Linked DNA regions of Homo sapiens: region 1 is linked to region 2. A link means that fine-mapping ties the variant in region 2 to the expression of a gene that starts in the linked region. Tissue or cell type: blood mononuclear cells. Region 2 holds a variant in brackets; the other region holds the start of a gene. All regions are shown on one strand. Distances are from middle to middle.

Region 1 (5,094 bases), 31 kb before region 2:
CCTTAGCCCAGGGACATTGTCTTCCAGCTCCCAGCACTCCTGTGCATCACAGTATGAAGGTAGCCCCTACTTGGCCTGCTCCTCCCTTTCCCCGCAAACATAAGGCTAGAGCCCACTGCCCTAGAAAACAGCAAGGACTTCAGCAGACAGGGGGCATCTTGCAGAGAGACCTGGCGGGGCCACCCACAGTGTGATCAGGGCTTTGCCACCTAAGACAGGTAGACAAATTCAAGCCTGGGGCTGCATCCCAGGGTGGGGGTAGGGGACTCTCAGGGCTGAAAGTCTTGCCTGAGATTCAGCACATCAGACAAGACTTCACAACAATGGGGGCCCCAGGCTCCTTCCACAGGCCCCAAGGGACCATCTCATCCTCCCAACAAGCTGCTGGCTGTCCCCTATAAGGCAGCAAAAGACCATGAAAGGCTCTTGGGGGGGTGTGTGAAGGGGCGAACTTGGCGACGAGACAGCTGCCACCTCCCTGGGCTCCTGGCCAACACAGCCTTGGCCCTCACACAGCAACTGGCTCAGCCCTGAGCCCTGTCTCTTATGTGCAGCCCGGTCCTAAGGTGGTTCCCTCCCCAGGGCTCAAGCCCGGTTTCCAGAGGCAAAAGGGGCCCTTTTGGAGGCTGTTCTGAACCACTGTGCTCTTCTATTGGGATGGAGCAGCAGCCACTTCATCCAACCCTCAGGGCTGTGGTGAGAACTCAGGGAGTCCTGAGAACCCTGTGACCCAGCCAGAGGTCAGGATGAATCCCAGATCTTCAGGCCCCACCCTCTGAATAAGAAGCAGGTAAAGCCAGGCAATAATAGCACCTGCTCAACACTAGGTTGCTGCCACACCTTTGCTCTATGCTCGTGCACACACATACACAGACAAACACACTCCAATTTTCTCTTCCTCCTCAAGCCACAGGGAACCCGAGTTACCTGCTCCCAGGTGGGCAAGAGTTAGAATCACACAGAGGCACTGGCGTCTGAGAGCACAAAAACCTTCAAGAGACTCTGGCAAAGGGGCCAGAGTCACACAGTAACATCCACCACAGCCAAGGGCCAGTCACAGACACGAGCCCCAAATAACTACGGGCCCACATCACAGAAGGAACACACAGTAAGGACCACAATTACACAGTGGGTCCCCTTTCCATGGATGAGCGTCAGTGTCACAGATACAAACTCCCCAAAAGAAGGGGCAATGAGTCACACACACATTCCCTGCATGCCCCTTCCCACCCAATAAGTGGGTTAGGGTCAATCAAAAGACAGTCGTCCCCCAAGCCCCGCCCCATGGATAAGGATCAGAGTCACAGACCGCCCCCCCTCAAAGGGTAAAGACCAGAGTCACATCCCCCCTCCGATCCCCCAGGAATAGAGACCAGAACCACAGAATATTTCCCCATGGACCGATAAACACCAGAGTAACACAGAGCAGCATCCCCTCTCCTATGCACAAACTCAAAGTCGCAGACAACCGCTTCCCCACTGATAAACTTCGATGTAGCCGACACAGTGATCCACAGTAGCCCACTCCCATCCGTCCCTCCCTTCCCCCAACCCGCATGCACCCATCCCATGTCCCAGTCGCGCACGCGCCTTTGCTCACACCAAAAAAAAAAAAAAAAAAAAAAAAAACCAAAAAAAAAAAAACCCTCCCGGGTTGAGACATTGCACCAACCCCTCCGTTCCGCGCATCTCCCCCGACCCGAAGTCCGCCCTCGCGCCTCCTCTACGTCCCCGCCCCGGGCCCCTTACCTCCGCCCCCACGACCAGCGTCGACGCTCACCTTCTCGGCCCGGGCTGTCAAGGAAGGGCTCCCAGACATCACCTCTGCCCGCCGCCACCTCCTCCAACTCTCCCAGCTCAGCCGGAGCCGGAGCGCGCAACAACCAAGTCCGAGACTGGAGGCAGATCGGGGGGAGGGGAGAAGCGCCAAGCGCGCTGCCCTCCCAGGGAAACTCACTGCCGCCTACTCCCAGCCGGCCACAGTCACCAGCTCAAAATGGCGACGACGAGAAGGGAGTCGGCGCTCCGACCACCATCCACCTACTAAGGAAGCGCGCTCTGGCCGGCCCCGGCGATTGGTCACCGCCCGCTAGGGGACAGCCCTGGCCTCCTCTGATTGGCAAGCGCTGGCCACCTCCCCACACCCCTTGCGAACGCTCCCCTAGTGGAGAAAAGGAGTAGCTATTAGCCAATTCGGCAGGGCCCGCTTTTTAGAAGCTTGATTTCCTTTGAAGATGAAAGACTAGCGGAAGCTCTGCCTCTTTCCCCAGTGGGCGAGGGAACTCGGGGCGATTGGCTGGGAACTGTATCCACCCAAATGTCACCGATTTCTTCCTATGCAGGAAATGAGCAGACCCATCAATAAGAAATTTCTCAGCCTGGCCGAAAATGGTTGGCCCCACGAAGCCACGACAACTGGAGGCAAAGAGGGTTGCTCAACGCCCCGCCTCATTGGAAAACCAAATCAGATCTGGGACCTATATAGCGTGGCGGAGGCGGGGCGATGATTGTCGCGCTCGCACCCACTGCAGCTGCGCACAGTCGCATTTCTTTCCCCGCCCCTGAGACCCTGCAGCACCATCTGTCATGGCGGCTGGGCTGTTTGGTTTGAGCGCTCGCCGTCTTTTGGCGGCAGCGGCGACGCGAGGGCTCCCGGCCGCCCGCGTCCGCTGGGAATCTAGCTTCTCCAGGACTGTGGTCGCCCCGTCCGCTGTGGCGGGAAAGCGGCCCCCAGAACCGACCACACCGTGGCAAGAGGACCCAGAACCCGAGGACGAAAACTTGTATGAGAAGGTGAGAGGCGGGGGGGGGGGGGGGGGTAGTGGGGACGGAACCCCGAAGGGGTCAGTCCGGGATCGGCAGATGGGGCGCTGTAGAGGACGTTCTTAGGCAGTAGAGGACTGCGCGGCCGGCGAAAGCCTAGAAGACTTGGGAATTTTGCCTACCTTGTGTTCCTCCTTTGTCTCTCGGTATCTTCGTTCCAGGGCCAGAGGCAGGATTGGTTTTATTTTGCAGACAGAAATCACACCTCAAGTGGACAGCGCTCAAAACACGTTAGAAGCAGTATAGTACAACGATAATACTAAACACCGATATGGCACTTGCTCGTTGCCGTCTGCATTCTTTTTTTTTTTTTTATAGGGACGAGATCTCGCTATGTTGCCCAGGCTGGTCTCGAACTCCTGGCTCAAGCGATCCTCTCGCCTCGGCCTCCCAAGGTGCTGGGATTACAGGCATGAGCCACCGCTCCGGGCCCCGTCTGTGTTCTAAACACTTGACATGCATTAGCTCATCTTATACTCGAAACAAACCCCATTTCGAGGTGGGCTCTATTATTATACTCATCCTACAGATGAGGAAACTGAGGCACAGAGATGTTAAGTGGATTGCCCTAGCTCACATAACTGAATACATGGTGGAGGTGGAACTGGTATTTGAATTTAGGGCTACCAGGTCTGCTGTGCTGTATTAATAGCAGACGCTGTGAAATCAGGCAGCACTGACGGTTACCCACCCGTGTGATCTTGGTAGCATAAACCCTTGGTGCCTCAGTTTCTTTGTCTGTAAGATGGGAACAGTAATAGGACACCTTCTAAAAAATAGGACACCCCACCTGCCTCATGTAATTAAATGAGTAAAAATGGTCAGAACAGCAGCTGGCACTTCGTAAGTATGTACTCAGCACTAGAATGTGTTTATTATTGCCATGTTTCACCTCACTGAGATATTGTGAGGTGTTTCTATGTGAAAAGACTGGCACATAATAAGTACTTCATCAATACTAACCTCTGGTTAAGGGGCTTGGATATATAGGATGCTTGTTCATTCTGTAAATATGTATTGAGGGCCTGCTGTATGCCAGGCTCAGTTCAGGGCCCTGGGGATACAGCAGTGTGGAAATCAGACAAAGCCCATGCTCTCATAGAGCTTACATGATAGTGGGGAAGACAGAAAATAAACAGTAAAATATTAGAAAACAATAATACAAAGTAGTATAATAGATAATATAACATGAGAATGTATGATATACAGAGAATGGGGAAAGTATGCTACTTAGGTAAACATAGACTAGAAAGAGACAGAAGGAAGAGAGGATGTGAAGACAAAGTTAAGCAAGATAAGTGGATAGAGAATGACTTGGGTGTAGGGGGCTATTTCATTAGCTTGAGCTATAAGAAATTGCCAGTATTCAACCATTTGTGACCTATAAAAATAGCAGTTTCCTATGCTTCAACTTTGAAAGACAAGGTAACTAGGGAGTGCCTCCTGAAGGAAGTGGTGATGAATCTAAAACCTTGAATGAGGAGACAGATCCAGCCATGACTAGAGCTGGAAGAAAGGCTTTCCAGGCAGAGAGAGCAGCAAGTGCAGTGGCCCTGCAGTGGGAAGGAGCTTGACATATCCCAAGAATGGAAACAGAGGAATTTAGTGAGAGGGGCACATGGAGACCAAGTTATGCAGGGCCAGAATAAGGCTTTGTGGAGCAGCAGGAAGCCCTCATTGACCTCTATTTCTCCACAGAACCCAGACTCCCATGGTTATGACAAGGACCCCGTTTTGGACGTCTGGAACATGCGACTTGTCTTCTTCTTTGGCGTCTCCATCATCCTGGTCCTTGGCAGCACCTTTGTGGCCTATCTGCCTGACTACAGGTGCACAGGGTGTCCAAGAGCGTGGGATGGGTAAGAGGCAGAGGCAGGGATGGAGGTTGAAGGGGATTCTGCCAGGAGTTTTGTTCCTGCACCATTGGGAATGGGGAGCTGAGATGAGGGATTGGTATCAGTTGAGGCTCCCTCACGTCTACCCCTGCTATTTGCACTACCAGGATGAAAGAGTGGTCCCGCCGCGAAGCTGAGAGGCTTGTGAAATACCGAGAGGCCAATGGCCTTCCCATCATGGAATCCAACTGCTTCGACCCCAGCAAGATCCAGCTGCCAGAGGATGAGTGACCAGTTGCTAAGTGGGGCTCAAGAAGCACCGCCTTCCCCACCCCCTGCCTGCCATTCTGACCTCTTCTCAGAGCACCTAATTAAAGGGGCTGAAAGTCTGACTCGCTAGTGTTGATTGTGTTGTGAAGGGGATATGGGATGGGGG
Region 2 (10,626 bases):
GGTGGCTTATGCCTGTAATCCCAGCACTTTGGGAGGCCGAGGAGGGCGGATCGCCTGAGGCCAGGAGTTCAAGACCAGCCTGGCCAAAATGGTGAAACCCCATCTCTACTAAAAATAATTAAAAAAAAAAATTTAGCTGGGCATGGTGGCACATATCTGTGATCTCAGCTACTCGGGAGGCTGAGGCACGAGAATTGCTTGAATGCAGGAGGCAGAGGTTGCAGTGAGCCAATATCGCGCCACTGCACTCCAGCCTGGGCGACAGAGTGAGACTCCATCTCAAAAAAAAAAAAAAAAAAAGAAAAAGAAAAAAGAAAAAAAAGGAGGCTTATTGAGGCCGGCAAGGTGGCTCACACCTGTAATCCCAGCACTTTGGGAGGCTGAGGTGGGTGGATCACCTGAGGTCAGGAGTTCAAGACCAGCCTGACCAACATGGAGAAACCCCGTCTCTACTAAAAATACAAAAATTAGCTGTGCATGGTGGTGGGAACCTGTAATCTCAGCTACTGAGGGAGCTAAGGCAGGAGAATCGCTTGAACCTGGGAGGCGGAGGTTGCAGTGAGCCGAGATTGCGCCACTGCACTCCAGCCTGGGCAACACAGCAAGACTCCATCTCAAAAACAAAAAACAAAACAAAAACAAATAAACAAACAAAAACACGAAGGCTTATTGAAAGCTCCAACTATGATTGTGGGTTTGTCTATATCTTCTTGCAGTTCTATCAGTTTTTGCTTCATGCATTTTGAGCTCTGTTTTCAGGCTATAAATGTTAAGGCTCTTAATATCTTCTTGACTTTCTTTATCCCTGAAATTGACCTTTTTCAATATTAATAGTCACTCCAAGTTTTTTGAAAATATGAGCATGATATATTTTTTCTATCCTTTTACTTTTTTTAATTAGCGTCTTTGTATTTGAAGTGCATTCCTTGTAGGGGGCATGGAGATTGGTCTTGCTTTTTTATCCAATCTGGCAATGTCTGCCTTTGTATTGGAGTGTTTAAACCACTTATATTTAATGTCATATTGATGTGGTAGTTAGATTTGATTCTATCACCTTCCTATTTGTTTTCTATTTGTCCCGTCTGTTCTTTGTTCCAAATTTAATTTTTTTCTGTGTTCTTTTGGATCAATTAAATACATTTATGATTCTATTTCATGTCTTTTGTTGTCTAATAAGCTATAAGTCTTTGTTTTTTGCTTTAGTGGTTGCCTTATATAGTATACATTGTTATACTATATAGTATATATTGTTACTATATTTATACATATAGGGTTTATAGTATACATTGTTAACTTATCAGAGTCCACTTTCAAGGGGTATATCACTTCATGTGTAGTATAAAAAAACCTTACAATATTATACTTTTATCTCTCTCCTTTTAGCCTTTATGCTATTAGTTAATGCGTTCCACTTTTATATATGTTGTAAATCTTAAGGAGCCAATTATATTTTAAAAATATTTAAATAATAGAAAATACATATATTTATCCATATAATTACCATTTATTTATTTACAACTGGAGAATTTTCCTTTTGCTTGATGCATTTCTGTAACATTTCTTTTTTTTTTTTTTTTTTTTTTTTTTTTGAGATGGAGTCTCGCTCTGTTGCCCAGGCTGGAGTGTAGTGGCGTGATCTTGGCTCACTGCAACCTCCACCTCCTGGGTTCGAGCGATTATTTTGCCTCAGCCTCCCAAGTAGCTGGGACTACAGGCACATGCCACCACACCCAGCTAATTTTTGTATTTTTAGTAGAGATGGGGTTTCACCTTATTGGCCAGGTTGGTCTTGAACTCCTGACCTCGTGATCCGCCTGCCTCGGCCTCCCAAAGTGCTGGGATTACAGGCATGAGCCACCGTGCCCGGCTTCTGTAACATTTCTTATAGTGTGGCTCACTGTAGCTTCAACCTCCTGAACTAAAGCAATTCTCCTTCCTCAGTCTCCAAATAGCTGTGACTACAGGCATGTGCTACCACACCTGGCTAATTATTTTATGCTTTTGTAGAGATGGGGGTCTCGATGCTACTCATTTTTGTATGGTGATTTTGTATCCTGCAACTTTCCTGAATTTGTTCATCAGTTCTAATAGTTTTTTGGTGGAGTCTTTAGGTTTTTCCAAATATAAGCTCAGATCATCTGCAAAAAAGTATAATTTGATTTCTTCCTTTCCACTTTGGATGCCCTTTTTCCTTTCTCTCTCTCTCTCTTTCGTTTTTTTCTTTGAGACGAAGTCTCGCTCTGTCACCCAGGCTGGAGTGCAGTGGCTCGATCTTGGCTCACTACAACCTCTGCCTCCTGGATTCAAGCGATTATCTCCTGCCTCAGCCTCCGGAGTAGCTGGGATTATAGGCGCACGCCACCACACCCAGCTAATTTTTTTTGCATTTTTTGTAGAGACGGGGTTTCACCATGTTGGCTAGGCTGGTCTTGAACTGACCTCAGTTGATCCGCCCACCTTGGCCTCCCAAAGTGTTGGGATTACACTTGTGAGTCATCCTGCCCCGCCATATTTCTTTCTCTTGTCTGATTATTCTAGCTAGGACTTCCAGTGCTATGTTGAGTAACAGTGGTGAAAGTGGGCATCCTTGTCTTGTTCCAGGTCTTAGAGGAAAGGCTTTCAGTTTTTCCCCATTCAGAATGACACTAGCTGTGGGTCTATCATATACGGTTTCATTGTGTTGAGATATGTTCCTTCTACACTCAGTTTTTTGAGGATTGTTATCATGAAGGGATGTTGAGCTTTATCAATTCCTGCCATTTGGTTGTTTGTTTTCTGATTGTTTTGTGGTCTTCTCTTCCTCCTTTCCTTTTTTCTGTCTTCCTTTTAGTGAGGGTGGTTTTCTCAGGTGGTATGTTTTAATTTCTTGCTTTTTTATTTTTTGTGTATCTGTTGTATGTTTTTTGGTTTGAGGTTACCATGAACCTTGCAAATATCTTATAACCCATTATTTTAAACTCATGACAAAGTAACACTGATGGTATAAACATACAAACAAACAAACAAACAAGCAAAGAGAAAACTAATAAAAACTCTTACACTTTAACCTCATCCCCCATTTTTTAACTTTTTGTTGTTCCTATTTCTATCTTATTGTACTATGTCTTGAAATGCTGTCGTAGTTATCATTTTCAACTGGCACATCTTTTAGTGTTTTTTTGTTTTTTTTTTTTATTTTTGAGATGGAGTTTCCCTCTTGTTGCCCAGGCTGGAGTGCAATGGCACGATCTCGGCTCACGAAAAACTCTGCCTCCTGGGTTCAAGCGATTCTCCTGCCTCAGCCTCCCGAGTAGCTGGGATTACAGGCATGTGCCACTATGCCTGGCTAATTTTGTATTTTCAGTAGAGATAGGGTTTCTCCATATTGGTCAGGCTGGTCTTGAACTCCCGACCTCAGGTGATCTGCCTGCCTTGGCCTCCCAAAGTGCTGGGATTACAGGCGTGAGCCACTGTGCCCAGCCTCCTTCAGGACTTTAAATATGTCATGCCATTATCTCCTGGCTTGTAAGGTTTCCACTGAGAAGTCTGCTGCCAGATGTATTAGAGCTCCATAGTGTTATTTGTTTCTTTTCTCTTGCTGATTTTAAGGTCTTTTCTTTATCCTTGTCCCTTGGGGTTTTATTATTATTTTTGAGACAGGATCTTGCTCTGTTGCCTGGGCTGGAGTGCAGTGGTGCAATCATGGCTCACTACAGCCTTGGCTTCCTGAGCTCAAGTGATCCTCCCATCTCAGCCTCTCAAGTAGCTGGGACTACAGGCGCATGACCCCACATCTGGCTAAATTTTGTGGGTTTTTTTTTGGGTAGAAAGAAATGGGATTTTGCCATGTTGCCCAGGCTGGTCTCAAACTCCTGGGGTCACGTGATTTACCCACCTCAGCCTCCCAGAAAGCTAGGATTACAGGCATGAGCTGACACGCCTGGCCAGGAGTTTGATTATTAAATATCCTAAGGTAGTCTTATTTTGGTTAAATCTGCTTGGTGTTCTGTAACCTTGTACTTGAATATTGAAATCTTTCTCTATGTTTGGGACGTTCTCTGTTATTAGCCCTTAACAGAAAACTTTTTTCCCTATCTCTCTTTCTGTCTCCTTTTTAAGGCCAATAACTTTTAGATTTGCCCTTTGAGGCTATTTTCTGGATTCTGTAGGCATTCTTCTTTCTTTTTTGTTCTTTTTTCTTTCTTTCTTTCTTTCTTTTTTTTTTGTGAGACGGAGTCTTATTCTGTCACCCAGGCTGGAGTGCAATGGCGCGATCTCAGCTCACTGCAACCTCTGCCTCCTGGGCTCAAGTGATGCTCCTGCCTCAGCCCCCTGAGTAGCTGAGATTACAGGCCTGGCTAATTTTTATATATTTAGTAGAGGTGGGGTTTCACCATCTTGGCCAGGCTGGTCTCAAACTCCTGACCTTGTGATCCGCCCACCTCGGCCTCCCAAAGTGCTGGGATTACAGGCGTGAGCCACCACGCCTGGCGTCTTTTTTCTTTTGTCTCCTCTGACTATGTGTTTTCAAATAGCCTGTTTTCAAGCTCACTAATTATTTCCTCTGCTTGATCAATTCTGCTATTAAATGACTCTGATGCATTCTTCAGTCTGTCAATTGCATTTTTCAGCTCCAGAATTTCTGCTTTATTCTTTTTTCATTATTGCAATGTCTTTGTTAAATTTATCTGATAGGATTCTGAATTCCTTCTTTATGTTATCTTGAGTATCTGTGAGTTTCCGTGAGTTTCCTCAAGACAGCTATTTTGAATTCTCTGTATGAGAGGTCACATATCTCTGTCTTTCCAGGATTGATACCTGGTGTCTTATGTAGTTCATTTGGTAAGGTCATGTTTTCCTGGGTGGTCATAATGCTTGCCTGGGCATTGATGAGTTAGGTATTTACTGCAATCTTTGCATCCTGGGCTTGTTTGTACCCAACCTTCTTGGGAAGCCTTTCCAGGCATTCAAAGGGACTTGGGTGTTGTGATCTATGTTTTTTGTCATCAAAGCCATATTTGCATTGGGGGGACTCCAAGCCCAATAACACTGTGGCTCTTGTAGACTCATAGAGGTACCACCTTTGTGGTCTTGGATAAGATCCAAAAGATTCCTTTGGATTACCAGGGAAACATTCTTGTTCTCTTCCTTTACTTTCTCCCAAACACACAGTTTCTCTCTCTGTTCTGAGCCACCTAGAGCTAGGGGAGAGGTGACACAAACACCCCGGTGGCCACCACCAGTGGGACTGCACCAGGTCAAACCTGAAGCCAGCTCAGTACTGAGTCGTGCCCAAGGCCCATGGTAACCACTGCCTGGCTACCACTAATGTCCACTCAAGGCCCTAGAGCTCTACAATGAGCAGGTGGCAATGCCAGCCTGGCTTGTGTCCTTCCCTTCAGAGCAGCAAGTTTCCCCAGTCTTGAGCAGGCCTAGAGATGCCATCCAGGAGCCAGGGCCTGGGCACGGAAACCTTGTGAATCTACCTGGTACTCTATTTTATGGTGGCTGAGCTGGCACCCAAGCCACAAGACAAAGTCATTCTCACTCTTCCTTCCCCTTTCCATAAGCAAAGGAGTCTCTCTCCATGGCCAAAACTGACCCAGGTCCTTGGCAAATATTGCCTGGCTACCATTGCTATTCACTCAGGGCCCAAGGGCTCCTTATTCAGCTTGTTGTGAATGCTGTCAGGCCTGCAACTCACTCTTCAGGCTAGTGGGCTTTCCTCTGGCCCAGGGAAGGTCCAGAAATGTTGTCTAAGAGCCAAGGCCTGGAATCAGGGACCCCAAGAGCCTATTTGGTGCTCTACCCCCGTGTGGTGAAGTGGAACATAAACTGCAAGACAAAGTCCCCTTTACTCTTTCCTCTCCTTTCCTCAAGCAGAGGGGGTCTTTCCCTGTGGCCACCACAGCAGGGAATATGCTGGGTCACACCTAAAGCCAGCATGTTTCAGTGTCTTACCCAAGGCCCATGGTGTACTACCTGGGTGCCACTGTTTGTTATTCAGGGCCCGGGGGCTCTTTAGTCAGCAGATGTTGAATTATACCAGGACTAGAGCCTTCCCTTCAAGGCAGCAGGTTCTCTTATGGCCCAAAGTGTGTCTAGAAATGTCATTTGGGGCCAGGCACAGTGGCTCA[C/T]GCCTGTAATCCCAGCACTTTAGGAGGCCGAGGTGGGCGGATCACTTGAGGCCAGGAGTTTGAGACCAGCCTGGCCAACATGGTGAAACCCCGTCTCTACTAAAAATACAAAAATTAGCCAGGCGTGATGGCACGTGACTGTAATCCCAGCTACTTGGGAGGCTGAGGCAGGGAGAATTGCTTGAACCTGGGAGGCGGAGTTTGCAGTGAGCCGAGATCGCACCACTGCACTCCAGCCTGGGTGACAGAATGAGACTCCTTCTAAAAAAAGTGTGAAAAATGTCATCTGGGAGCTAGGGCCTGGAATGGGGACTTCAGGACTCTGCCTGGTGCCATATCCTACTGTGGCTGAGCTGGCTTCCAAGTTGCAAGACAAAGTCCTCTTTACTCTCCCCGCTCCTCTCCTCAAGTAGAGGAAAGGAATCTCTTTCAGTGGTTTGAGCTGCACTGCTTGGGGTTGGGAGAGGGGTGGCTCAAGCACTCCCTTGGCCACCCCAGCTGATGTTTCACTGGGTTGTGTGTCCAAATCCACTGGCTCCAAGCCCAGCACAGCAACAGGACTTGCCCAGGAACGGCAGTCCTTGTAGCCCAGACTGACTTTCAAGTTTATTTAGGACTGCAGAGCACTTTAGCCCACGGTGGTGAGGCTTGCCAAAACTCAGGTTCTGACTGCTGGGATGGACAGTTTGCCTCTGGCTAGGGCTGGTCCAAGTGCTCCCCTTATGGGTGCCGGCTTAGTTCTCTCCGGTTTTTGCTTTCTGTTGTGACAGGGAAGCACCGAGTTCCAGCGCAAAGTCTCACGATTGCTGTGCTCTCCTGCCCCCAAGTGCACAGATTCTCTCTCTCTGCCACACACCTACTACCAGGGGATGGGGGCGGGGTGGTGTAGGTGATTCAAAGCTGTCTTCCCTACCCACTTTAGTGCCTCTTTCAGTGATAGGAAGTTAAAACCAGGTACTGTGATTGCTCACCTGATTTTTGGTTCTTATGAAGGTGCTTTATTGTGTGGATAGGTGTTCAATTCAGCATTCCTGTGAAGAGGATGATCAGGAGGCTTTTATTCAGCCATCTTGCTCCCTAGGTTGACAGTTTTTAAAATTCATTCTTTTAAAAATGTTGCACCATTGGGTCATTTTTATATCTTCTATGTCTCTTGTTGAACTCTTATGAACTTGTGGAACATAGCTTTAATAACTCTTAATGTCCTTATCTGCTAATTAATTTATGCATCAAATCTGGGTTGGTTTTCCTTGATTGACTGTTGTCTTCATATTTTCCTGCCTTGTTGCATGATTAGTAAGCTTTTTTTTCCCCCCCAAGATGGAGTCTTGCCCTATCGCCCAGGCTGGAGTGCAGTGGTGCGATCTCAGCTCACTGCAACCTCCGCCTCCCGGGCTGAAGCAATTCTCTTGCCTCAGCCTCCCGAGTAGCTGGGATTACAGGTGCCCGTCACCACACTCAGCTAATTTTTGTATTTTTAGTAGAGACGGGGTTTTACTATGTTGGCTAAGCTAGTCTTGAACTCCTGACCTCATGATCCACCTGCCTTGGCCTCCCAAAGTGCTGGGATTACAGGCGTGAGCCACCATGCCCGGCCTGACTAGTAAGTTTTTTGTTTGTTTGTTTGTTTTTAGAGACAGGGTCAGCTCTGTCACTCAGGCTGGAGTGCAGTGATGCCATCATAGCTCATTGCCTCCTTGAACTACTGAGTTCCAGCAATCCTCCCAAATAGCCTCTAGAATACCTAGTGAGAGGTGACAGCGTGCTGGCAGTCCTCACAGCCCTCGCTCGCTCGCTCTTGGCGCCTCCTCTGCCTGGGCTCCCACTTTGGCAGCACTTGAGGAGCCCTTCAGCCCACCGCTGCACTGTGGGAGCCCCTTTCTGGGCTGGCCAAGGCCAGAGCCGGCTCGCTCAGCTTGCGGGGAGGTGTGGAGGGAGAGGCGTGAGCGGGAACCGGGGCTGCGCGTGGCGCTTGCGGGCCAGCTGGAGTTCTGGGTGGGCGTGGGCTTGGCGGGCCCCGCACTCGGAGCAGCCGGCTGGCCCTGCCGGCCCCGGGCAATGAGGGGCTTAGCACCCGGGCTAGTGGCTGTGGAGGGTGTACTGGGTCCCCCAGCAGTGCCAGCCAACCAGTGCTGCGCTCGATTTTTCGCCGGGCCTTAGCTGCCTTCCCGCAGGGCAGGGCTCGGGACCTGCAGCCCACCATACCTCAGCCTCCCACCCCCTCCATGGGCTCCTGTGAGGCCAGAACCTCCCCGATGAGCACCGCCCCCTGCTCCATGGCGCCCAGTCCCATCGACCACACAAGGGCTGAGGAGTGCGGGCGCACGGCGCGGGACTGGCAGGCAGCTCCACCTGCAGCCCAGGTGCGGGATCCACTGGGTGAAGCCAGCTGGGCTCCTGAGTCTGGTGGGGACGTGGAGAACCTTTATATCTAGCTCAGGGATTGTAAATACACCAATCGGCACTCTGTATCTAGCTCAAGGTTTGTAAATACACCATCAGCACCCTAGCTGTGTCTAGCTCAGGGTTTGTGAAAGCACCAATCGACACTCTGTATCTAGCTACTCTGGTGGGGCCTTGGAGAACCTTTATGTCTAGCCCAGGGATTGTAAATACAGCAATCGACACTCTGTATCTAGCTACTCTGGTGGGGCCTTGGAGAACCTTTATGCCTAGCTCAGGGTTTGTGAAAGCACCAATCGACACTCTGTATCTAGCTACTCTGGTGGGGCCTTGGAGAACCTTTATGTCTAGCCCAGGAATTGTAAATACAGCAATCGACACTCTGTATCTAGCTACTCTGGTGGGGCCTTGGAGAACCTTTATGTCTAGCCCAGGGATTGTAAATACAGCAATCGACACTCTGTATCTAGCTACTCTGGTGGGGCCTTGGAGAACCTTTATGTCTAGCCCAGGGATTGTAAATACAGCAATCGACACTCTGTATCTAGCTACTCTGGTGGGGCCTTGGAGAACCTTTATGTCTAGCCCGGGGATTGTAAATACAGCAATCGATACTCTGTATCTAGCTACTCTGGTGGGGCCTTGGAGAACCTTTATGTCTAGCTCGGGGTTTGTGAATGCACCAATTGACACTCTGTATCTAGCTACTCTGGTGGGGCCTTGGAGAAACTTTATGTCTAGCCCAGGGATTGTAAATACAGCAATCGACACTCTGTATCTAGCTACTCTGGTGGGGCCTTGGAGAACCTTTATGTCTAGCCCGGGGATTGTAAATACAGCAATCGACACTCTGTATCTAGCTACTCTGGTGGGACCTTGGAGAACCTTTATGTCTAGCCCGGGGATTGTAAATACAGCAATCGACACTCTGTATCTAGCTACTCTGGTGGGGCCTTGGAGAACCTTTGTGTCCACACTCTGTATCTAGCTAATCTGGTGGGGACGTGGAGAACCTTTGTGTCTAGCTCAGGGATTGTAAACGCACCAGTCAGCGCCCTGTCAAAACAGACCACTCGGCTCTACCAATCAGCAGGATGTGGGTGGGGCCAGATAAGAGAATAAAAGTAGGCTGCCCGAGCCAGCAGTGGCAACCTGCTCGGGTCCCCTTCTACACTGTGGAAGCTTGGATCTTTCGCTCTTTGCAATAAATCTTGCTACTGCTCACTCTTTGGGTCCACACTGCTTTTATGAGCTGTAACACTCACCACGAGGGTCTGCAGCTTCACTCCTGAAGCCAGCGAGACCACAAGCCCACCGGGAGGAATGAACAACTCCAGAAGCACCGCCTTAAGAGCTGTAACACTCACCACGAAGGTCTGCAGCTTCACTCCTGAGCCAGCGAGACCACGAACCCACCAGAAGGAAGAAACTCCGAACACATCCGAACATCAGAAGGAACAAACTCCAGACGCGCCACCTTAAGAGCTGTAACACTCACCGCGAGGGTCTGCGGCTTCATTCTTGAAGTCAGTGAGACCAAGAAACCACCAATTCCGGACACACTAGGACTACAGGCATGCGCCACCACACCTAGCTAATTTTTGAATTTTTTGTAGAGACAGGGTCTTGCTATGTTGCCCAGGCTGCTCTGGAACTCCTGGCCTCAAATAATCCACCTTCCTCAGCCTTCTAAAGTACTGGGTTAGAGGCATGAGCCATTGTGCCTGGCCCCATTAAGTTTTTCTTTTCTTTTTTTTTTTTTGAGACGGAGTCTCACTCTGTCGCCCAGGTTGGAGTGCAGTGGCGCCATCTCGGCTCACTGATGTGGCCGCCTCCCATGTTCAAGCGATTCTCCTCAGCCTCCCGAGTAGCTGGGATTACAGGAATGCGCCACCACACCTGGCTAATTTTTTTGTATTTTTAGTAGAGACAGGGTTTCACCATTTTGGACAGTCTGGTCTTGAACTTCTGACCTCAGGTGATCCACCCACCTCGGCCTTCCAAAGTGCTGAGATTACAGGCGTGAGCCACTGCACCCGGCCCTATTAAGTTTTGATTGGATGTCAAACATTGTGATTTTTTTTTTCTTTTTGGGTGCTGGATATTT

The links. PIP is the estimated chance that this variant, and not a neighbour inherited with it, causes the effect.
Region 1: it holds the start of NDUFB11, and the variant in region 2 is fine-mapped to the expression of NDUFB11 in blood mononuclear cells (TOPMed, PIP above 0.99). The same link has a PIP of 0.9 or more in fibroblasts, gastroesophageal junction, lung, stomach, subcutaneous fat and unexposed skin.

Annotation. Positions count from the first base shown.
Region 1 is chrX:47,142,172-47,147,265 of GRCh38, reverse strand. NDUFB11 (NADH:ubiquinone oxidoreductase subunit B11) reads left to right here and starts at 2,564. Exons shown (of 3, transcript NM_001135998.3): 1 at 2,564-2,793; 2 at 4,522-4,652; 3 at 4,826-5,050. The coding sequence starts at 2,587. The coding sequence ends at 4,949. It overlaps RBM10 (RNA binding motif protein 10), which reads right to left and starts at 2,045. Exons shown (of 24, transcript NM_005676.5): 1 at 1,781-2,045. RefSeq lists an enhancer at 1,752-2,021.
Region 2 is chrX:47,108,811-47,119,436 of GRCh38, reverse strand. No RefSeq gene overlaps it. Among named protein-coding and RNA genes, the nearest start is that of NDUFB11, 31 kb to the left of the region's middle. The variant C/T (reference allele first, on the strand shown) is at 6,117.